Linked DNA regions of Homo sapiens: all the other regions are linked to region 1. The links come from fine-mapping of genetic effects on plasma protein levels. Region 1 holds a variant in brackets. A gene starts in each other region. All regions are shown on their forward strands.

What was found. PIP is the chance, under the fine-mapping model, that this variant and not a neighbour inherited with it causes the effect. Protein levels are from antibody-based Olink assays in UK Biobank. Linkage for the fine-mapping came from a reference panel and not from the study's own genotypes, which makes the PIPs less certain.
Region 2: MEP1A starts here. The variant in region 1 is fine-mapped to the plasma level of the MEP1A protein (UK Biobank, PIP above 0.99).
Region 3: it holds the start of CD300LG, and the variant in region 1 is fine-mapped to the plasma level of the CD300LG protein (UK Biobank, PIP above 0.99).

What each region holds. Positions count from the first base shown.
Region 1 is chr9:133,284,951-133,293,129 of GRCh38, forward strand. No RefSeq gene overlaps it. Among named protein-coding and RNA genes, the nearest start is that of SURF6, 47 kb to the right of the region's middle. The variant A/G (reference allele first, on the strand shown) is at 3,048.
Region 2 is chr6:46,788,778-46,796,960 of GRCh38, forward strand. It overlaps MEP1A (meprin A subunit alpha), which reads left to right and starts at 4,612. Exons shown (of 14, transcript NM_005588.3): 1 at 4,612-4,690; 2 at 4,775-4,799; 3 at 4,889-4,939. The coding sequence starts at 4,622.
Region 3 is chr17:43,842,879-43,851,061 of GRCh38, forward strand. CD300LG (CD300 molecule like family member g) reads left to right here and starts at 4,298. Exons shown (of 7, transcript NM_145273.4): 1 at 4,298-4,381; 2 at 5,680-6,015. The coding sequence starts at 4,339. It overlaps LOC107984979 (a long non-coding RNA gene), which reads left to right. Exons shown (of 3, transcript XR_001753057.2): 3 at 3,386-3,597. It overlaps LOC107985077 (a long non-coding RNA gene), which reads right to left. Exons shown (of 2, transcript XR_001752896.2): 2 at 6,872-7,423.

The DNA of each region.
Region 1 (8,179 bases):
AACTTGGTAGGCAAGTGGTTGAATCTCAGTCTCTCGGGCTTACCGCCCCTCAGTGGGGCCAGGCACGGTGGCTCAGCCCATAATCCAAGCACTCTGGGAGGCTGAGGCGGGCGGATCACGAGGTCAGGAGATCGAGGCCATCCTGGCTAACATGGTGAAGCCCCGTCTCTCCTAAAAATACAAAAAATTAGCCAGGCCTGGTGGCGGGCGCCTGTAGTCCCAGCTACTGGGGAGGCAGAGGCAGGAGAATGGCGTGAGCCTGGGAGGCGGAGCTTGCAGTGAGCCGAGATCACGCCACTGCACTCCAGCCTGGGCGACAGAGTCAGAATCCGTCTCAAAAAAAAAATAAAAGAAAGAAAGAAAGGAAAAAAGAAAAAGAAAGGCTCAGGGGGTAGAGGAGGAGGCCAGATAGGAGAGTTGTGTGGAGCCCAGATAAGGATCATGTTTATATTGACACCTCTGGGCAGTGAGCCTGGCACCTGTAAATGCCTGTAAATCGCCAGGGAGCAGAGGACAGTGCTGGCTGGGAGCCTGTGTCTCAGCCCTGCCCCGTCGAATGATGTGGCCTGTGGCCAGGAATATCACCTCAGTCTTTCAATTTCCTCATCTGCAAAATGGGGATAGCAATGCTGGCCATTCCTTCTCCCAGATCAGTGATGTGGTCCGAAAGTCCTAAACAGTGTCACTAAGTAAGGTGAAGTCTAATAAGTCATAAATCCCAGCCTGCCATAGGGACCTAAGAGCTATTCCCCTTCTCCTTCCCTGTGGAATCTGGGACACAGCAAGGAGCAGGACCAGGTAGCAGCAGGCTTCATGCTCCTTCCCCAGCAGCCTTCAGAGAGGACACCAGGGTTACCCAGGGATGGTTACCTGGTCCCCAGATCACCTTGTTGTGGCAAGTACCAGAATTGGGCACTGGCCAGTGATGGGCTCATAATAGCTCCAGCCAAATGCCCCTCTTTCCTTTGTCCTTACAGGGAAGGTGGGTTACACTTATCCTCCTGGAGCCATAATTCCTTTTTTTTTTTTGGAGACAGATTCTCACTCTGTCACCCAGACTGGAGTGAAGTGGTGCAATCTTGGCTCACTGCAACCTCTGCCTCCCAGGTTCAAGCAATTCTCCTGCCTCAGCCTCTGTAGTAGCTGGGATTACAGGTGTGCACCACCACACCCAGCTAATTTTTTGTATTTTTAGTAGAGACGGGGTTTCACCATGTTGGCCAGGCTGGTCTCAAATGCCTGACCTCAGGTGATCCACCCACCTTGGCCTCCCAAAGTGCTGGGATTACAGGCGTGAGCCACCGCACCCAGCCCGGAGCCATAATTCCGTTAGGCCTTACCCTGCAGTGCCTGGGCACCTGCCCTAGTGCCCTATGTGATTACGAGCATAGGTAACTACTTCTTCTTTCTTCTTCTTCTTCTTTTCTTTTTTTTTGAGACAGGGTCTCAACCTGTCACCCAAGATGGAGTGCAGTGGCATGATCTTGGCTCACTGCAGTCTCAATTGCCTGGGTTCAAGTGATCCTCCCATATCAGCCTCTGCAGTAGCTGGGACCACAGGCGTGCACCACCATGCCTGGATGACTTTTACATTCTTTTGTAGGGATGGGGTTTCACCATGTTGCCCAGGCTGCTCTTGAACTCCTGGGCTCAAGCAGTCTTCCCACCTCAGCTTCCCAAAGTGCTGGGATTACAGGGGTGGGCGACTAGCCAAGCCTAGGTTAACTTCTTATACTGCAAAGTTACAGAGTGTGGCAAGAAAAAAATAAAGCTCTCCATCGAGTTCAGGGATGAGTCATTTCAGGAAATACCATTAGTTTTCAAGACAATGCAATTTATATAATATTGTAATTCCAAGCTCATCAATGTAGTTCAGATATTCTCACAGTCATGGCAGACTAAATCTAACTTAAAAGGAAGCACATGCTATAGAGGTCTCACAAGGACCTCACTAGGACCAGTTCTGATACTGTCCCAGTCTATTGTGTTGCCTTCACAGAATGCTTGAGACTTAGTAATTTATAAACAAAAGATGTTTGGTTCACAGTTCTGCAAGCTGTACGAGAAGCATGGCACCCCCATCTGCAGGGCTTCTGGTTAGGCCTCAGACTGCTTCCACTCAAGGCGGAAGGCAAAAGGGAGCTAGTAAGGAGTGTAATTCCCAGTTTTAAAAGTAAAGATTTGAAAGCATTAGTTTGGAGACTTGTAGCCCACAAAAATTTAGGATTTTGTCCAAACTGCCGAAAAACTCAAGAACAGCGAACAACAGGTATACTATAGCTTTTCTTTTGAAGCATAATTTTTCTCTCTTCAGTCTCCATTTTTATTAAAAACAAATCATGATAGAATGATTTGTTTACAAAATAAACTTTAGTCTTATTATACTTGGCCTGATTATTTGCACAAAGCACACCAAGAATAACTATTTTTCACATAGGCCTTTAAAATTGGCTTTGATGGAACTCTGTTCTGTAAGGAATCTCAAATAAGACTTTTTTAAAGCTAAGCCCAGCCATGGGTTTGTACACTCAAATACCTATGAGTTGGGTAAATTTCTCTCCTCCTGAGGTCCCAAGAAAACTTGGGTCTCCTGAGACTGTTAGAAAGTGACATTCTTTACTTACCACAGGTCAGGAACTTTGAACAGGGACTGTGTAGACAAGGTATAAGGCCAGATTTCCCAAGGGGCTTTTATTAGCTCAATAACTCAACTTTGATTCTCCTTTTTTTTTTTTCTGAGACAGAGTTTCACTCTTGTTCCCCAGGCTAGAGTGCAATGGCACGATCTCAGCTCACTGTGACCTCTATCTCCCGGGTTCAAGTGATTCTCCTGCCTCAGCCTCCAGAGTTGCTGGGATTACAGGCGCCTGTCACCATGCCCAGCTAATTTTTGGAATTTTTTTTCTTTTTAGTAGAGATGGGGTCTCACCATGTTAGCCAGGCTGGCCTCAAACTCCTGACCTCAGGTGATCCGCCTGCCTCAGCCTCCCAAAGTGCTGGGATTACAGGCATGAGCCACCTCGCCCAGCCAACTTTGATTCTTTAAA[A/G]AAAGCATGCCATTCTAGTCAAAGCCTTGATAAAATAACCAGTTTCTCCCATTGTGTCCTGTTACAAAAGAAAACAGATTATCATTGTACTTATGCAAATAACTATACTGCCATATGTTGAGAATATTCACAAATAGTTTCCAAATTCTGGAAAAATCAGGTAGGGAGAAACAAATATACTCCAAATTTTTTCACAGGAGTATATTTTATTCAACTGTTAAAAGCTGTAAGTAGCTTAAAAGAAAAGTTTTCTTGGCTCTGGAAAACAAAAAGGATCAGCAATGTTTTAAGCAAAAAAGTTAATACAAAAGATTACTGGGCTAGGCTCAATGGCTCACACCTGTAATCCCAGTACTTTGGGAGGCCAAAGTGGGTGGATCACCTTAGGCCAGGAGTTCGAGACCAGCCTGGCCAACATGGTGAAACCCCATCTCTACTAAAAATACAAACATTAGATGGGCATGGTGGTGAGTACCTGTAATCCCAGCTACTTGGGAGGCCGAGGCAGGAGAATCACTTCAACCCGAGAGGCAGAGGTTGCAGTGAGCCGAGATGATGTCACAACAGTCCAGCCTGGGAGACAAGAGCGAAACTCCATTTCAAAAGAAAAAAAAAAAAAGATTACTTCAGTTTTCTATTAGTTCAATCAATTCCATTAACTCCTGTTCTGTTTGATATTTATGAACATTTCAGCTCCCCATGAGAGTCCTGGAAGTTATTTCCTCTATTCTAATGTCACATTCTCCAAAGTTATTGGAAACCTGAATTCAAGAGCACCTGTCAAAGTTCTAGAGCTGATTATAAACCACCTTTTGAAGAGCATCAAACAAGACAACAATTGTCTGTGGATGACAACAATTGTCTGTGGATGACAACAAATCTTAGGACGGCCATTATTAAAGCCACAGTTGACTAGGAATTTGGTTACTTCTGTGGCATACAACAATTTTACATACAAATTATAACTATTATATTAACAGCATACATTCAATCATATCAGAATTATAGGAGTTTCTCATAATTTTGGAACACATACTAATAACATATTTATACAAATACAGCCCAAAGAAAGCCAAACAACATTTTATATTTGACAATGCTTCCTGTATGATTTTTATACCACGTAAGCCAGATGTCATTTTTGGACATTAGAGGACCTAATATCTAAAAGATTAGGTTAGAAAGAGACATAATTATAATCAAATTATAATTTATAATTTGATTTTGGAAAGTTTGTCAAATATCAAAGATTTATTTTGTGGATATCACAAAATAGAATCCCAGGTCACCATAAGTCATTCATTTGACCAAAATGATAACTCCAAAATTTTAAAAAGAAAAACCCTTTACTCTGATAGAGGAGACATAGCTTTCCAAACAAGAAGACCCAATGAAGATAGCATGAGGCCAACTGAATCGTATCTTCTCTCTCCTCCCCTTTTTCCCTGTAGTTTACCCAAAGGGGCAAACAAAACCCTTTCATTTTCTTTTACTATAAAAAATCTTTTACATAATCTTTTATGTAAAAAATCTTTTACATAAAAATCTTTTTCAAAAGAGAAAACCAAATTTAATGTTTGTATTAGTGCATTTTTAATGCTAAGGCTGGTTTTACAATAAAAATTTACAAATGTATTCAGTCTTAATTAGTCTGACCATAAGGTAAGATTTTCATAAACTTTTTTGAACACTTTATAATTTTTCATTAAACAGTCGATCAGTTTTCTAAGAAAACCCTGTTATTTGGACACCTGGGCTCAGATTCTGGCCCTGTATTCGTGTGCTTTTATTTTAATGTTCAACCTACAGAAAAAAAAATTAAATAATCCCCTTCCAATATTAGCCAACTTGCTCATACCCACAGAACTTTTTTTTACAAGACCAACCCTTCATAAGCCCTTTTCACTTTGTTTAAACCTCCAGTTTTGTCCCATTACTCTTTTAGGTTAAGATAATCTTTAAACCCTCTGAACTAGACAAAATTATATTCCTTTTTTGTTTTGTTTTGTTTTTGATATGGAGTCTTGCTCTGTCACCAGGCTGGAGTGCAGTGGTGCAATCTTGGCTCACTGCAACTTCCATATCCCAGATTCAAGCAATTCTCCTGCCTTAGCCTCCTGAGTAGCTGGGACTACAGGCATGTGCCATCGCATCCAGCTAATTTTTGTATTTTTAGTAGAGACAGGGTTTCACCATTTGGCCAGGATGGTCTCGATCTCTTGACCTTGTGATCCACCTGCCTCAGCCTCCCAAAGTGCTGGGATTACAAGCGTGAGCCACCGCGTCTGGCAACATTCCCTTTAATAAAAGCCATATTCCCATGCCTTCCTATAATCTTTTACTTTCCTTACACACCTTACATGTAGAACTGTTTCTCCAGTGGTCTCAATTACATGTTACAATGTTACCTCTTAGCAGCTTTTATTTTTGGTGAAAACCTGATAAGTGATTTTAATTATGTACTAGGTGTGGAGTCTAGGACATCAGACAGAAGTGAAGATAAGGCCTAACTCTTTCCAAAGTAGGCAAATTAAACAATTTTCAAAAGTCAAAGAAACAGCTTACAACCTTAAAACATTTAGTAAATCTGATATCTGACGTTAATTTAGACCAAATGTCTACATTTTGAAGACATTTTTGTTTTTATCAATAATTTCTAAAACTGTCTTTATTTCCAAAAGATTATTAAAGTCACGTGTACAAAAGGCATTAAAGTTTCTCTTTTTCTGACAAAATATTTGATTTCGGCATCTATTTTTAAGCCAATTAAACAGAGTTCTTTTTGTGTAAATATTACACACACAACACATATGAATACAGACAGATAGAAGATTCAGCACTTGTAAGATTTTTTATTTACCAGTTTCTTAATTGGATTACTGGCTTCAGGGTGGAGGAACAGGGCCAGGAAACCATGCAGTTTCTGGGGCCTAATAAGGAGGCACAGCTGGAAAGGAGAGACAGATCCCCCAAATTAGGGTGCCATTCTATATGTATCCTGGATCCCTAAAAAGGAAAGAAATACTACAGGAGAAGACAGTGCAGTGCTTCCACCACACATGTCATCGCAAGGAAAACCAAAGCCAATCAGCCCATTTTGTAACCAGCCAATCCCCCATGGGAGTCTCATCTCTCAGTGGGGGTTGGGGATGTTTCCGTATCTTCCAGGTGGCCAAGAGCATGTTTCTCTGATCCAAGCTTGCAAAGAGCTAAGTATGTCTTCATAACTGACATTAGCCAATTCTTAAAGTATATTTTTTACCTAGTTATTATATATCAAGCCCTCCTATAATTCAAAGTAATTTTTGATACCCCCAAGACTCAAAACCGTTAGATAGCACAATGCAAAACAGAACAGACTTAGATTTTGAGGGGGACCTATCTGCTTTTAATTCCTGGGGTTTCATGAGGAAAACAGGGTTTTTTCCCAAAATGGGGTCTATAGCACCTCCTCTGTTTTTCCCAAGGAATCTCAGGCTACCAGAAGTTATCTTAGGGCCTCTCATGTGTGCATTAATAGTGGTAAGACAAAATGGAGAAAAATAATTCAGTCGACTAAAAGAAAAAAAAAACCTTTTTCCAGCAAAACAAGATCCATGAAAAGAAAAGCATAAAGACCTTTTAAATATACCTACAGCTTGCTTATGCACTTTTAATTAAGTTGACTTTTAACCATAGTGGTCTTTAAAAAAATCCTTTCACATCTCTGATTACCTGACTTTATCCATGCAGTCAATATTTCTGGCTTTTGAACTTTACCAAAAGTAACCAACCTCCCAGGTGCTTCAAAGGCATGGTAAGCAGTTTCTTTTTTACTAGATTTAGAATCTCCCTAAGGTAGTTCAGAGAAAGAAAAATTCAAGAGAAGAAATCAGAAGCTATCCATAAAAACCTCAAATGGCAAAGTTACACACATAACAAACCAGAAAGGAATCATTCCAGAAGCCAAGAATTGAACCCAGGCCACCACTGTCAAAAGATAAACCCTTAGTTACTGAACTATACAGCATTGAGCAGTTTCTATTGCTTTTCCCAAAAGGAGCCTAGAGAGGCCAATTTTGAGTTTGAGAAGGCTTTTAACTGCTCAAGATAATTCTTAGGGCTGTGACATGAACCTCAAAATTCCTGTCCTCTGGATGGCAGAAACCAAGATAAAGTATCCCCACAAGGTTAAGCTCTTAAGGACACAAAACAAGACCGATCTTACCGAGTATTGTTTTCAGGGACCCGTAGCATAGTTTGTAATTGACCAGTCTGCTGGGTTGGCTTGAAAAATGGGCTTATAGGGATCCTAAACCCACATTGTATCCTGTGATACTCCTTTCTCCATTACAGAATATAGAAAGACAAACTTTTAGTACAAAGTACACCAGATTTGCTACAGCCTAAGACCAGTCTCACAAATCCATTTTTCTATTAATCAAACTCTTGCAGAGGAGACAAATATAGTGACATTTACCATTTATGCAGACAGAGAAAGAGAGACCAGAAACTTGGCTGGTAAGAATTTCTTATCCTTTTTTGGCATACCAGATTTATGGGTTCCCTTTCTCTGCAGCTTCCAGAAGAATGGAGCACCTTCTGATGACCCTGCTCGCTGTGCCATAGCTGTGGGATTCAAGCCACTTTACAAAAGAAAATCACCCTTTTCTGTTTTATGGAACCATAGGCAAAAGATAATCAATTTGCAAGATGTTGCCCAATGGGCTGCATTGGGGAACTGAATGAACATTTTCCATCCCAGCAAAATACACAAAACAAAACAGACACTAGTCACCCCATTCAGCACCCAATATCAACCTAGCAAAGCTCAAACTTTCTCCAGACGGTCCCTGTTGTCTTTGATCCATTCCAGCTGGGGAGGGATGACCTCCAAATGATAATTCACAGTGGGGTCTCTGGGCAAGGCAAAGAGCCAATAGTCACCCCGAGAAAGGCCTATCGAGCTTTCTTCAGGGCTCACCAAATGTGACCAGACAAATAAGGAGGATTCTCCAAGTTAGGCCTGCTGGACTTCCATCAGCAATTTCTTCTGAGATCCCCTCCACATATACAAACACACACAAAGACACGACAGACAGAAGGCCTTCCAAATCAGATCCCCAACAAAGAACTCAAGAGTATCCCTCCCA
Region 2 (8,183 bases), not on the chromosome of region 1:
GGGGCTGTTTCCTGGAGGCCTTCTGAAATGGACTTCTGTGTTGATGATCTCTCGAATTCTTAACATCTGATGTATTCCCTATTAGGAAACTGAAGGTTCTATGATCTTTTGATTTTCTTATACAAAGGGAATCAGAGGAAAGCTATTCGATAACCACAGTGAGAGTGGAAGCATCTGACTGATGCAAATTCCACAGTGTCCTGTTCATCAAAGTGTGTTCCACAGACTACCTGCATCAGAGTCACAAGGGTGCTTATTAAAAATGCAGATCTCTGGAACTCACCATTTGACGTGAGTCAGGATTTCCAAATTCCAAGCCAAGAAATTTGTACCTCAACAAACCATCCAGAGGATTTTGAAGGAATCTATAGCTTGGGAACTGTTTCCCTCAGGGTTAATTCTTCTTAGTAAACTGTTAGAGATGGAACCCTGTGAAACCAGGGGTCTGCATGCTACAGCATAATGGTGGAGGCCTCACTCCTGGGCTGTCAAAGGCCAGACATAGGTGTAAAGAACTGCCTCTCAGGTGGAATTTAGGAGCATTGTTCAGGATCTGCATGACCTTGAGAAGGTTCCTTAATTTTTCTTCATCTCAGTTTCTTAATATATAAAATGGAGATAATAATAGTTGCTTCTTCGTAGGATTGTTGTGAGGATTGAATGGATAATTACCCTTAGATACTTGGAATACTGCCTGGCCCACAGTAAGTACTATGTACATGTTGGTTGCTGCTACTGCTTCTGTTATAATTATTATCACCGTCTCAATTTCCACCACCTTGAGGGTTATTCTCTAAAACCCAGGGGTCAGCAAACTATGACCCTTTGCTTTGTTTTTGTGAATAAAGTTTTATTGGAACACAGCCATGTTCACACCTTTACATTATTGTCTACAGCTACTTTATGCTACATACAACAGGAGAGTTACATAGCTACAACAGGGCTCATATGGCCCACAATGCTTGACATATATCTCTTTGCCCTTTACAGACAGTTTGCCGACTCTTGCTCTATACACCTTTGGGCCCCTGTTAATATGTTGATTGCCCTGGGAGGAACAAGGACTGTTGTGTTTCAGGTTAGCTGACAGCTGGTTGAAGGCAGAACTCTGTGAGTGAAGCAGAAGGAATCAGCATCTTGCAATAGAGTAGAAAGAGGGCAGAGAACATCCTTGAGAAGGGTTTGGGGTGAGAGGACTTTGCAAGTCTCTTAGCCCAACTCCTTGCCTGAGCTTTTATGAAGCTGGAGAGTGTGTGGAAATAGCTGGGGGCGGGTTTTTCCATTTTCTACCTGTCAATGGCTTTCTTCCTCTAAGCTTCAGACCACTTTCTCAACTGGTCAGTTTATGAAATGCCCTTCCTGAGATCAAAGCAAGTCACCCCATCCGATACCTTCAGAGAAATTTCTATTTACTTTTTTCAGTTAAAATGAGAACTAATTACCTACTATGTTTCCAAACACTGGGGCAAATACAGGAAATAAAGCATGGACCTTGACCACAGAGTGCATAATCTTCTTTAAACTGAAAAGCCATAAACCCTTCAAATGAAGGACTTAAGGCCCCAGCCTTACTCATTTGATACCCTGACACAATGAAGAAGTGACTAGGATTGCAAATAGCTGGTAACTAATTAACATCTGCCATTAAGATTGTGACAATAAAATAATTGGGGGCAAGTTGTGTCTGCTGAAGACCTATGTTCTCATCACTGGAGATTCTACTGAGCAAGGAGTGGGCTGAGCTGTGTTTTTAGTGCCCATGTTTTGCTAGGAGGCAGTTGCTAACTAGCAGGTAGAAGGAGCAGTTTATTGAGTGCTTCCTATGTTTCTAGTAGCTGTGGTTTACATATGTTATCTCATTGAATCTTTACATTGGCCCCATGAAGTAGGCACCACTATCCATTCTACACATAAAAAGCAGGTACTAAAATTACTGTAGCTAGTCAATGGTAGAGGTGGAGTTCCTGCTTATCTGATTCCAAAGCCATTGTTGTAGTATATCATTCAGATAAGTTTAAGAAGGCAGGGAAAGATAAAAACACATCTGGCTGGAAGCAAGAGAAGGTGGAGAGAATTAAACAGCCTCACTATTCCCTGTTTGAAATCCTGATACCTGAGATTTAGTAGAGAGGTGTACCAAAGCAACAGCACTGCCTTTTTCTTTAGAAAATAAAATAACAAACTCCTACTTCCTGGTTTCCAAGATTAACAAATATTCAGTTTTACCAAATATTCAGTTTTACCATAATTGCTTCAGAATTTGAGAAAAATTAAACAACACATTTAAGAAATAAAAGTCTCATATGTTTTCCACACTGATACTTAAAGCCAATTATTCTTACGATGTTGGCCAGTTTTAAAATTTGATTATTGCCCAATTTTTAAATGGTCTAGATTGTAGTTGCTCACTTAAGTCATTGCGGCTGTTGGGCAAATTTGGCTTTTTGTTTTGTTTTGTTTCGTTTAAAAAATAATATTAGTGGTTTGTAATGGTTAGAGACGGTGGAAGATGGCCTTTTATCACCTCACCATCAGTGGCTTAGGTAAAACAAAAATCAGCCATAGAACGCTTCTGCCCATCAGAAGCAGGCCCCCAGTTGACATGCCTCCTATTTTACAGCTCAAGAAGCTCTACTGTTCACCTTCTAAAAGTCTTTTGTGACAGGAAATGCTTTTTTGACAGCAGGACTAGCCCACCTGCCCAGTAGTAAGTCTGAGGTAGAGAGATGCAGGCTCTAGACCTTGAAGATTGCTCTAATGCCAAAGATTCTTATATCTGGTGCAGGCAAGAATAGGTGGGTGTGTGCATATATTTAGTATTGTGCTGGCGCAGATGGAGCCCACTGTGTACATCTCTTCCCAACACTGCATTCAGTGACATGGTGTTGGTAGCTTGAAATTGACCATGGCAATCAACAAACACTACAAATAAAGGCTTGGTTTTGTTTGTTTGCTTGTTTGTTTTTACTTTTTTTAAAAGAGCCGATTATTAAACATTTACCTGTGCATGGCTGAATATATTCCATAATTTATCTTTTCTTTTAGTATAAACACATTTTCCCCATTCTTTACCATAACAAAAAAACTTCAATGAATATGCTATGTGGAATTTTGTGCACATATGTGTGAGTTCCTTTAGCATATAGACCTAGAAGTGAAGTTTCTATCTTATGAACTGTGCACATTTCAACTTCATTAGATAGCATCAAATTGATGTCCTACTAGATTTCCTATTTTCTTACCTTCTTGTTGACACTTGATATTGTCAGTCTTCTTAATTTATGCCAATCTTAGCTTGAGGTGGTATTTTACTGCTATTTGAACCTATAATTTTTCTGATTACTTACGAGGCTAAAAATCTTTTTACATATTTATTGGCCATCTGGGTCTTTTGTGAATTTGCTACTCATATTTTTTGTTCATTTTTTCCTTAGATAATCTCCTGTTCTTTTTATTGATTTGTAGAAATTCTTTACATATCCTGAATACTTATTCTTATTCAATTATATGCAGTATACATATCATCTCTCACCTGTGGCTTGTCTTTTAATCATGTTATGTTTTTGTCATAAAGAAGTTTAAATTTTGATACAGTCAAATGTATTATTCTTTTCCTCTGTAATTTCTATGTTTTTTTCATGTTTAAGCAATCTTTCTTGACCTAAAGGTTAAAAATATGTTCCTATATTTTCTTTTTTGAAGTTTATATTTTCATATTTAAATTTTTAATCTATCTAGAATTTATTTTTGTCAATGGTATCAGGTGTACATTTAATGTATTTCCTCATATGGAAATGCAATTATTCCCACATTATTATGAAAGAGACCCAAGTTTCCCTCTTGCCTTTTTGGTTCCTCTTATACATAAAAGCCCTGCATATGCTTGCATCTATTTGGATATTACCTATTCCAGTCTATAGATTCATTTTATCTTTATTTTTGGAACTATTACACTCTAATTACTGTAACTTTACCAAAGCTCCTGATATTCTTTTGAGGCAATTCTTTTCTCTTTATTCAGCCTTTTCAGAATTTTCTTATCTATTCTTCAATGTTTACTCTTTCATGCGAATTGAACCATTTGTCAGCTTGGCAAGTTCCACTGAAAACCCTGTTAGATTTTTTACTAGAATGACAATGAATTTATAGATTAATATTAAAACAATCTATTAATATTTCATACATATGTACATATAGAGAGAGAGTCAGGTATTTTTATGTCCTTCAATAATTGCTTTATAACATTTCCATAAAATTTGAATTTATATTTTATTAGAATTAAATAATAATAATTTTATAAATTATTTTTATTTTTATTGTTAAGGGGATCGTCTATCCTGTTTTATGATATGAATGGCTATGGCTGCCCTATAGGAATGTTATTAGTTCTTATATGCTCATTTCCGTATTAATTTTTCAAACTTTTCCCCAGTCTTTGGAGCTTAAGCATTTAAGGTAAACTTAGTGTTTGTCCTCGAAAGAGTCAATGATGTTATCTTTGACAACCTTTATTGGCACTACGGTACATATGGAAGGGTCAAAGTTTCTAATACGACCGTCAGGGTAAAGTCTAAACGGTATTTATGACAAGGTGTGTGCTAAAATCAGCTCACTTGCAGCAATGGCTTGGATTAGATCCACTTGCATTCTCTTTTTTACCTTGCTTTTTGCCCACATAGCAGCTGTACCGGTAAGTCGAGTCCTGCTTTTTGGATATTTAGAAATATTAATTCTAGTATACATTATCCATTTTCTGTATATTTATTTTTTTCAGATTAAGTATCTTCCTGAAGAAAATGGTAAGAATTAGTTCAAATGCACAGAGAGTGTTTTTGAACTTTTTTCCTTCGGCAAGACTAATAATAATTTTTTTTCTCACTTTTAACAGTACATGATGCAGATTTTGGTGAACAGAAGGATATTTCAGAAATCAATTTAGGTGAGTTCAATTTTTGTGTTATTAAAGTCTTGAAATTACTTGAAACCCAGTGGTGGGATTACTGAACACTTTCCTTCCTAATACTGTATTGTGATTCTCTGGGGGAGAAATATTTTTTGGTGCTTTGTGAGAAATTGCATTTTCTGAAAGATAAAAATGCGGAAAGAGAAGATAGTTAGACCAGACTTTCTAGGAGAGCTAGGAAGTCCTCAATGGATCTAGAAATATGTAACAAGTTTCTCTTTATAAAAATTTTATTTTTCCAATTTGTATTTGGAGGAAAAGGAAAGCAAATAGATAATTATTCCGATTGTTAAAGAAAAATATAAGAATAAGCCTCTGGTTATATTTAGTGGGGAAACAAAACCCAACCCCTCCACTGGCCCATCATATTCACTAACAACTCCTCGGTTGAGACTTAGGGGTGAGTGTAAAGCAATCTCCACTTAGACATCTCATTTACAAATATATTTCTTGAAGAAATTCATCAGTCTCATCCATTACTGAGAGGAGAGAGAAGCTGAGTCATCATCTCTGTTTTCTCTCTGTTGTCCTGCTTCTGAAATGAGAGAGAAGCCTCTGCATTCCCAGTGTCTTAGGTCAGGATTTGTGGAAGCAGAGCTATTCATGATAATAAGTACCTTCAGTTTACAAAAGCTTTTATATGCAATTGCATATTTATTTGTCCAGTCTTGTCGTGGAGTAAGTGCTGTTTTCATTTTTTTGGGAAGCGACAGGTGGCTTCTCATGGGTAGAGTGACTTGCTCAAGATCATAGGTAGCAGTGATGGGGCTTACTTCCAGATCTTGTAGCCCATACCTTAATAGCTCAGTGCTATCTGAAGGCTACAAAACTAACATACCAATAACTAAGGGTCAATTTTTCTGGCTTTGTCTCACTCACAGAGAAGCCAGTTAGTTGATATTTAATTGGAATAGCTGGAGAATGGCTGCATAGGCAGAGCAGAAATAGTTTAGGAAGGTAAATGGGTGAATGCATAAATGGGTCCCAAGACTTCAGAGCCAGGCACTAAAATATCTCTCTTTAGAGTTAGCCATTGTGTAAACAGTTCAGAGAATCTGCTGTATTTTACAACAGAAATGGGATTAGAATTAGAGTTTTTCTAATCTCATCATTATTTATCTAATAAAAATTAATTATTTACCTCTTTGCCATTTTGTACTCTTTAGGCCCACCACCACCTCTGATCCTTGACCCCAGTGGAGAAATCTCATTACCATGTAAATCTTCTTTTTAGGCCATTTCAACCAAACCACCAGGATTGATTGGGTTAGCCATATGGCCAGATTCTAACACCATAAATTGGGAAAATCATATAGAGAAAATTGCCACCTTTTTACCATCTTCTTTTTGCCTCACAAGGCTGAGTAAACGTTTCTTATCCTCCATCCCAAGACCTGCTCCTCTCAGTCCTTTTCATTTCAGTAAATGTGACTCACTCCTTCTAGATTTTCGGCTCAGAATGTTAGAGTTGCCCCTAACTCTTGCTTTTCTCTCACACCTGACACACAATCTGTCAGCAAATGTTATTCGATCTACTCGATCTACTTTTCTTTTTTCTCTTTTCTTTTCTTTTCTCCTGAGATGGAGTGTTGCTATGTCACCCAGGCTCGAGTGCAGTGGTGCCATCTCGGCTCACTGCAACCTCCGCCTCCTGGGTTCAAGCGAGTCTCCTGCCTCAGCCTCCCGAGTAGCTGGGATTATAGGTGCCCACCACCATGCCAGGCTAGTTTTTCTATTTTTAGTAGAGATGGGGTTTCTCTATGTTGGCTAGGCTGGTCTTGAACTCAAGACCTTGTGATCCGCCCACCTTAGCCTCCCAAAGTGCTGAGATTACAGGCATGAGCCACCACGCCTGGCCTAGATCTACTTTCAAATCATACTACAGTTGAGACTTTTCAGCACTTTTACTGCCCCTACCTTGGTCAGCCACCTCATGTCTGGGCTGGTCCTTTGACAGGCCTCATAACTGTGCTTCCCTTTCTGCCTTTGCTCCCTAAAGACTATTCTGCACAACATAGAGCTCTCCTTTTAATATCCTTCAGATCATGTCATTTCTCTGCTCCAACCATCTAATGACTTCTCCTTCAACATAAAGTAAAGGCCCTAGAGCCTTGATTCCCAAAGTGTGGTCCACAGGCCAAAGTGATCTGTGTCACTCAAGAGCTTTCTCTTAGAAATGCAGCATTTGAGGATCCACCCCAGACCTACAGAATTAGCATCTTCATTTTGACAGACCCAAGTGGTTTCTATGCACATCAGAGTGTGAGTCAATCTGCCCCTGACTACTCTTCCCCTTCCTACTTGAGCTTTCCAGCCACCCTGACTGCACAGCTACTCCTCTAAGGAAGTGATTTTCGATGTGTTGTCCCCAAGCCAGCAGCATCGGCATCACCAGGAAACTTGTTAGGAATGAACATTCTCAGGCCTCACCCCAGACTTAATGGACCAGAAATCCAACGGTGGGGGCTCATCAACGGGTGTTGACCAAGCCTTCCAAGGGACTCTGATGCTCAAGTTTAGGACCACTGCCCTAAGACATCAAGGCTTTCCTGTCACAGGACCTTTCTATCTGGTGTTGCCTCTACCTCCCCTACTCTTCCTTCATTCCCTCACTCTATCATATTTCTGCTAAAATGCCACCTCCTGTGGGAGGCCCTGCCTGACCACTCTTTAATAAAATAGCAAACCTATCTCACCTCAGCACTCTTTCCCACTTTACCTTTCATTTGTTTCTTTTTTATTGTACTTTTCACCATTTGTCACACTTTACAGTTATTTGTTTATTTGTATGTCTCCTTCTTCCCCCAATCAAGAGAGTCATCTCCTTAAGGACTTGTTTTATTCTCTACTGTATCCCAGCATCTAGAAAAATGCTTAAGACACATTAGGCATTTAATAAGTGTATACTACATGAACAAATTGGGTAATGAATAGATTGAGGCTTGCTCTCACTGGATGTACACTTCTTTGGGAGGTTCTCCCTGCCCCCCATGACTCCATCCATTCTGACTGACCACTGGGGCCAAAGTCTGAGTGGGCTTGTTCACTTCACTCTGAAAGAGCTCCCTCAATCCCATTATAATCCAGGCCAGGTGTCAGGAAATACAGATTTTTGCTCAGGACAAACCTCAATGTAAGAATAGATGGACCAGAACAAAGTCCCTCTGTTTAAAAGATGATTCAAATCTGGGTCCTACTGACAGTGGGACAGTGATGTCAT
Region 3 (8,183 bases), not on the chromosome of region 1:
TTTGATTGATGAATGTTGAAGGAGGAACAAGGCGTGTGTAACCCGGCTCTCTTCTTCCTTTTCTCTGGTGAGCTGGCCCACCTGCAAAAAGTGTGTGTTCTAAACTGATACACCACACCTCACCCTGAGTATTACGAGGATGGCCCAGCTCCACTGAGGAAAGAAGGACGCAGTTTTACCTGATTCTGGGGTTCAGCATTAGGTTCTGCCCACTGTCCTGTTTCCAAAACCGTGTTACTATGCCTGCATCAAGCTTATCCACCCGCGGCCCACGGGCTGCATGCAGCCAGGATGGCTTTAAATGAAGCCCCAAACAAACTCGTAAGCTTTCTTAAAACATTATGAGATTATTTTTTTAACTCATCAGCTATCACTGGTGTTACTGTATTTTATGTGTGGTCCAAGACAATTCTTCTTCTTGGCCCAGGGAAGCCAAAAGATGGAACACCCTGACCTACATAAACAATAAACATAACTTACACAAAAGTGCACTTATTTGTTCCACAGTTATTCATCATCTAAGACAGCAGTTCTCAACCCAGGGTATTTTTGCCTCTCAGTGGGATGTTTGACAATGCCTGGAGGCTTTTTTTTTTTTTTTTTTTTTGAGACAGAGTCTTGCTCTGTCACCCAGGCTGGAGTGCAGTGGCGTGATCTCAGCTGACTGCAAGCTCCACCTCCCGGGTTCACGCCATTCTCCTGCCTCAGCCTCCCGAGTAGCTGGGACTACAGGTGCCCGCCACCATGCCCAGCTAATTTTTTTGTATTTTATTTTTTTAGAGACGGGGTTTCACCGTGTTAGCCAGGATGGTCTCGATCTCCTGACCTTGTGATCCGCCCACCCCGGCCTCCCAAAGTGCTGGGATTACAGGCGTGAGCCACTGCGCCCGGCCTTTTTTTTTTTTTTTTTTTTTTTGAGACAAGGTCTCACTCCCATCACCCAGGCTGGCGTGCAGTGATGGGATCTCGACTCACTACAGCCTCGACCTCCCATGCTCAGGTGATTCTGTCACCTCAGCCTGTGTGTAGCTGGGACCACAGGTGCACACTGCCATGCTTGGCTAATTTTCTGTATTTTTTGCAGAGACGGGGTTTTGTCATGTTGCCCAGGCTGGTCTCAAACTCCTGGGCTCAAGTGATCCACTCACCTTGGCCTCCCAAAGTGCTGGGATTATAAGCATGAGCCACCTCACCCAGCCTGGAGACATTTTTGATTATCACAACTGGGAAGGGACTACTGGCATCTAGGGGGTACAGCTGGAGATGCTGCTAAACATCCTATAATTCACAGGACAGTCTCCCACAACAAAGAATTATCTAACTTAAAATGTCAACAGTACTGAGGTTGGGGAAACCTTGATCTAAGAGGAGCAAGTGACCCTCTTGGAGCAGCTGAAGTGATTTAGTCCAAGTCCAAACCGAGAGGAATTGGACCAGGGTGGCCATCGAAGACCAAGCAGCTCAGTCCCCTCATCCCTGCCACTGTACCTCTTGGGCACACAGAGGCCTTCCTGAGGATGTGATGAGGCTGTCACGAGCCCAGTGACCTGTCCAGGAGCCCTTGTGCCTCATTGCCTCTCCCAGGTGCAGTGATGGTGGGGCACCTCCCCATGCTTCTGGTGGGAAGCAGGACAAAAATATCCTCTCTTCTCAGATCCCCAGCCCACCACGGAGGTCTGTCTGTTGGCCCCATCTACCCCAGAGTGTGGCCTAAGGTGGAACTAGGTGCGAGGCTCATGCCAGCACCTCACTTTCACCCTTCTCCCCAGCCCTTGCTCCACTTCCCAGTCTGGTGAATCTGTTTCTAATGGAGTTCTTGAGCCAGCCTCCTGGGCTAGGTGTGGGGCTGGGAAATGGAGGGGAAGGACCTTCAAATATGCAGGAAGAGGGTAGGGATCCACTCAACATGCTCTTTATATAAATAAACATTTAATAACACCTCGCTTACTCTCCTAAAATGACAATCATAAATAATATGCCTTCACAAGCACTTACTTCTTTAAAATCACACTATAGTGCCTGAGCTATACTAGGGAGAAAAAATAAAAGGAAAGCAATTTATAACCAAATAACACATATTTCAATCTGTCAGTGCTCAGGTCCCATGACACTAGAAAGCATAATGAAGTGTCAGATGCTCGTCCTTGCATATAATAAATAAGTCTGAATTTAAGAAATGTAGAGGATCAGAAATTATTCTGTGTAAGGACAAAAATAAATAAATAGAAGAGCAAAGATATGCTATCAAATGCTAGAATAAGTATTACTTTAAGGCCGGGCATGGTGGCTCGTGCCTGTAATCCCAGCACTTTGGGAGGCCGACGTGGGAGGATCGCATGAAGCCAGGAGTTTGAGAAAAGCCTGACAACATAACAAGACCCTGTCTCTACTAAAAATAAAAAATTAGCCAGGCAACAGTGGTGCACGCCTGTAGTGCCAGCTACTTGGGAGGCTGAGGTGGGAGGATCACTTCAGCCTGGGAGTTTGAGGCTGCAGTGAGCTGTGATGGCGCCACTGCACTCCAGTTTGGGCAACAAGAGTGAGACCTGTCTCAAAAATAAGTAAATAAACAAATACTTTTTTTTCTTTTTTTAGATAGAATTTCACTCTTGTTGCCTAGGCTGGAGTGCAATGGTGTGATCTCAGCTCACCACAACCTCCACCTTCTGGGTTCAAGCGATTCTCCTGCCTCAGCCTCCCTGAGTAGCTGGGATTACAGGCATACACCACCATGCCTGGCTAATTTTATATTTTTAGTAGAGACTGGGTTTCTCCATGTTGGTCAGGCTGGTCTCAAACTCCCGACTTCAGGTGATCCACCCGCCTCAGCCTCCCAAAGTGCTGGGATGACAGGCGTGAGCCACCATGCTGGGCCATAAATATTTTTTAATCTGTGTTTTTTTAAAACTGCAAAAACAGATCACCTTTTGTAGTCTGTACATGTAAAAGAGAGTCAGGGGCTGAGATCATGGTAACAGTTTTCCCCACCGTGAACAGCTGGCCCTGCCCACTAAATGGCAGCAGTGCTTCGCAGTCATTGTGAAATTAAAACACTTCTCCCCACGTTACTAGACTCACACACACACAATCTTCCCTCCCAGAACCACTGAGTTAATGCTTCAGATATTAACCTGACAAGTCAGTAAAATTCCAACTGAACATTTGGAAGGATATATGCCAAAATATTAATGGTGCTTTTCTAAAGCAGAAGGGGAATTACAAGAAGCACTCCCTTTTTTCTTTCTTTCCTTTTTACGTTCTGTATTGTGTAAAATTTTGCTTACAACCTGTATGAACTTTGCAACCAAACCAAAAAAAAAGTCATTTTTGAAGCCAGTGTGTCAGAGCTCCCAGTAGTGTACATGTTTGTTTTGGTCCTTTCAAGGAGGATTCAAGTCTGCGATGGAGAAACCACCAATTCACTTTTTCAAATGCCAAAACAACTCCGCAGGCGTGGAGGAGACCTATCTTGCAGCGCTGTAGGCCCAAGGCACCAGGGAATCCGGTCCAGCTCAGCCCTACAGCTTTGCTCAGCCCCGTCTGCACCGCCGCCCCGTGGCCAAGGGCAGTACTGCGTCCTCCAAAAGGCAAGGGCGGAGGAGGGGCCAGGGGCCTTGCCCCAGGGGCAAGCTTCTTTCTGTCCCACTGACCACATGGCAGTCTGGTGAAGTTTATGGACCCCTCTCTCAGTATAATGGCGGGTAAATATATAAATAAAATATATATGCTGGAAAGAAAACTAATACTGGTGAGATGATTCTTAAAACTCTTTATAAATGTGTAATATAATAATAGCCGTTTCATTATTGTAAATAACCAGCTCTAGGGGCAGGTCTAGGAACTCATTGTTTTCCAAGCAGTGAGGGGTATACACGACGTTTCGAGATATCCACAACTTGATGTGCCAGTGTCTGTGATTGTAATTGGTAACAAAGTTGCAGGTACTGCTAACAGTACACTCTGAATAAGAGGAAAAGCTAAATATTAGAAGTTGATGAAAGTCAATATGTAACTTTTTCCCATGCGAATTCGACTTACAGACCCCTTAGGGCGCACGGACCACAGGTTAAGGCCCCCTTGAAGGGGCACGAGTTTAGGAGAAACTCTGGTGTGGGTTTTCAGTCCTGGAAGGTGAGCCCTGGGGTAGGCACGCGTGGGCGCTCAGAAAAGGGAAGGCAGAGGCGCCTCCCCGGCTGGGCCTGCGGAGGGATGACCCACACGCCCCTCCCCTCGCTTCCTTGGCCTGGTTTCACGCGACTAGAGAAAGTTAAAGACCCGTGTGACTGAAGAGGAGCTCACAGTTCCCAGCGTCTGCTCCCACGGTGTCCAGCGCCCAGAATGCGGCTTCTGGTCCTGCTATGGGGTTGCCTGCTGCTCCCAGGTGAGATGGGGAGAGGGTCTCGGGAGGGATGTGGGGCTCACCCTTGTGGTCTGCAGGGAAAGGACCTCTTGACTGACTGATAGCCCCACCCCACCTATCCTCAGCCTCCTCAGCCCTAGGGGAGCGGGGCGGGCTGGGGGTGGGGGGAGGTGGGGGTGGCGCCGGGGCCGCACTTGCTGTTTCTGGAACCTAGAGCCAGGTTTTCTCCAGACCTGTGGGTTTCCCCTCATGGCAATGTGGCTGTGAGAGTTGCTTTGCCTCTCTAATCTTAATTTTTCTACCCTGTGCCAAGCCTGGAGGCGGACAAGACACCCCATCTGGTTGCCCTGTTAAACTCAGCAAATATTTGTTGAATTTCGGCTATGCCTCTCCCCACAACCCTGAAAGATGAAGAATTATCACGTTTCATCAATTCTTTTGCTTTCTTTTTCTTTACCTTCTAACACTTAAAATCAGGATAAATCCTACAACTGATGTCAGTTGTTCAGTTGGCAATAGTGAGACCCCATCTCTACAAACAAACAAACAAACAAACAAACAAAATTAGCCAGGCATGGTGGTGCACACTTGTAGTCCTAGCTAGTGGGAGGCTAAGGTGGGAGGATCGCTTGAGCCCCAGAGGTCAAGGCTACAGTGAGCCATGAGCACCATTGCCCTCCAGCCTGGGCAACAGAGTGAGATCCTGTCTAAAAACAAAACAAAACCAGGCACGGTGGCTCACGCCTGTAATCCAAGCTCTTTGGGAGGCTGAGGCGGACGGATCACAAGGTCAGGAGATCAAGACCATCCTGGCTAACACGGTGAAACCCCGTCTCTACTAAAAATACAAAAAATTAGCCGGGCATGGCAGCACGTGGCTGTAGTCCCAGGTACTCAGGAGGCTGAGGCAGGAGAATCACCTGAACCCGGGAGGCAGAAGTTTCAGTGAGCAGACATCGGGCCACTGCACTCCAGCCTGGGCGGCAAAGTGAGACTCCATCTCAAAAACAAACAAACAAACAAACAAAACAAAACAAAACACTCAGAAACCCTGCTGGCTATCTGGCTGTCAGATTCTATCTGAATCTAGAACGCCACCCCTGCACCCCAATTCCTCAATGGGCCAGGGTTAGGGAAACAGCAACAGCCCTGCCCCAAGTTCCCCCAGCGTGGGAGGTTAGTAATGGCTCTTCCAAGGCTGTCCCCAGAAGGGATGACTGAGAAAAGCCTTCCTTCTTCCTCCTAAAATGGAAGCTCTGGCCTTGACCTTGGTACATGGAGCCTGGTTTTTCCAACCTCCACTCCTGCTCTGATTTTAGGTTATGAAGCCCTGGAGGGCCCAGAGGAAATCAGCGGGTTCGAAGGGGACACTGTGTCCCTGCAGTGCACCTACAGGGAAGAGCTGAGGGACCACCGGAAGTACTGGTGCAGGAAGGGTGGGATCCTCTTCTCTCGCTGCTCTGGCACCATCTATGCAGAAGAAGAAGGCCAGGAGACAATGAAGGGCAGGGTGTCCATCCGTGACAGCCGCCAGGAGCTCTCGCTCATTGTGACCCTGTGGAACCTCACCCTGCAAGACGCTGGGGAGTACTGGTGTGGGGTCGAAAAACGGGGCCCCGATGAGTCTTTACTGATCTCTCTGTTCGTCTTTCCAGGTAACAGATATCTCTCCTTCCCCAGGCTGGGGACAGGAGCTGCAGAGGGAAGAGGGAGGGGTGGTGGGGCATAATCCTGGTACCAACATTATGGGCACTGAGTCCTCAGGGAGATCATGCAGGTCAAGCACCGAGCAAGGCTTGGGGCACAGAAGGAGCCGCCTGAGTCTTGGCCATTGTCTCACTCTTGCTGCCCGAGGTCACACCAGTAGTAGATGTCAGAGCAGGACCGGACCCAGATCTGTCCAGGGCTGGGCTCGGCGCCTTTCCTTTCTGCCCAGGTGTGCTGGAGGGAGATTTCCATAGGCTGGGTACAAGATAGACATATCAGGGGATAAAGAAGACTCCTCGCCTGGTGTCAGAGATATTCCTGAGGCCTCCCGAGGCTGGGCCAACCATTGCTGCATTCCAGACCCAGCCCACAGCATCACCCTGGACATGCTGGCCTCGCCCTGCTTGTGCCCTCAACTCTCCCCTCCTGGCCTCCACCTCCCCAGATATTGAAGTCCAGCCACAGGTGCTAGAGTGCCTGGGAACCAGCCTCTGGGTAGGATGCCTGAAGGAGGGATCGTTAAATGCAGGGACACTAGGGGGCCGGGGCTGGAGCTATGGGGCCTGGGTAGGGGATAAAGCACCTCTCTGGGAGCCCAGAACCCCAAGTGGACCTGCTGAGCTAAGGAGAAAGAAGCCAGAGAGGGCCCAGGGGAGTGGGAGCCTTGGTCTGCTGGCCAGTGTGGGCGAGGTACATCTTTGTATCCCCATTTCACGGATGAGGGACTGAGGCTCCAAGAGACTAAGTGATTTGCCCAAGATCTCACAGCAGGAAGTGATGGAACTGGGATTCAAACACAAGTCGTTTCCAGCTTTGATGTCTGCTTTATTCCTCTCCTAGCCCCATAGCTGGGACCTATCCCAATCCCAGGCCCATCCCTACCACCATAGCCCCTATTTTTTTTTTATTCCTTTATCCATGGATCTTTAATTTGAGGAAATAAAGTTAAACTTGCCAAATAGCAGCAGCATCGAACCACATTGAATCTGTTCTTCATTATTTACAAGATTCTCTTATCTCTTCCAATTCTTATCAGTGTTCACATGTCATTTCTACCAGTTATGATCAAGTTCGCTTGTGTTTTAGGTTTACCCTCATTTGTAATTCTTTATTTGTGTATGACATGTGTATTGCTATATTATCGTCCTATATCGGACTCTATTGGCCTCTCTCTGATGGCAGTTGGGATGTTGAAAATGAAGAAGACTGACGACAGTGATGTGCTGGTAAATGTTTAACAGGCTGGGGATGCTGTCATTTTGTGGTGTTTTCCAATTTCTGTGGTGTCCATTTCTGTGGTCCAATTCCCATGGCCAATTTCCAGCCATCGACAGTTTAACACGATCTCACCAACTCCTGAAAAGTTAACAGTGAGCTCTTGTGAGTCAGTGCGAGCCATCTCCAGCACACCATTGAGTATGGTGAACCATGAGAAGAATTTCTAAGAAAGTCAGAAAAAGACAAATGTAGCCACTATCATTTCTTTTCTTTTTATTTATTTATTTTTATTCATTCATTCATTCATTCATTCATTCATTTTTCTGAGATGGGGTCTCACTCTGTCATCCAGACGGGAGTGCAGTGACACAATCTTGGCTCATTACAACCTCTGCCTCCCAGGCTCAAGTAATCCTCCTACCTCAGCCTCCAGAGTAGCTGGGACCACAGGCACAAGTCACTATGCCTGGCTACATTTTGGTTTTTTGTTTTTTTTTTAAGATGTGGTTTCGCCATATTGGCCTGTCTGGTCTCAAACTTCTGGACTCAAGCCATCTGCCTGCCTCAGCCTCTCAAAGTGCTGAGATTACTGGCAGAAGCCACTGTGCCCAGCCAGCCTACTATCATTTTCTTTTATTCATCTTTGCCTGAAGGCCCTAGGCAATGAAATATGCAAGATTAAGAAGTATAAGTCCCGGCATGGTGGCTCACGCCTGTAATCCCAGCACTTTGGGAGGTCAAGGCGGGTGGATCACGAGGTCAGGAGTTCAAGACCAGCCTGGCCAAAATGGTGAAACCCCGTCTCTACTAAAAATATAAAAATTAGCCGGGCATAGTGGCAGGTGCCTGTAATCCCAGCTACTCAGGAGGCTGAGGCAGAGAATTGCTTCAACCCGGG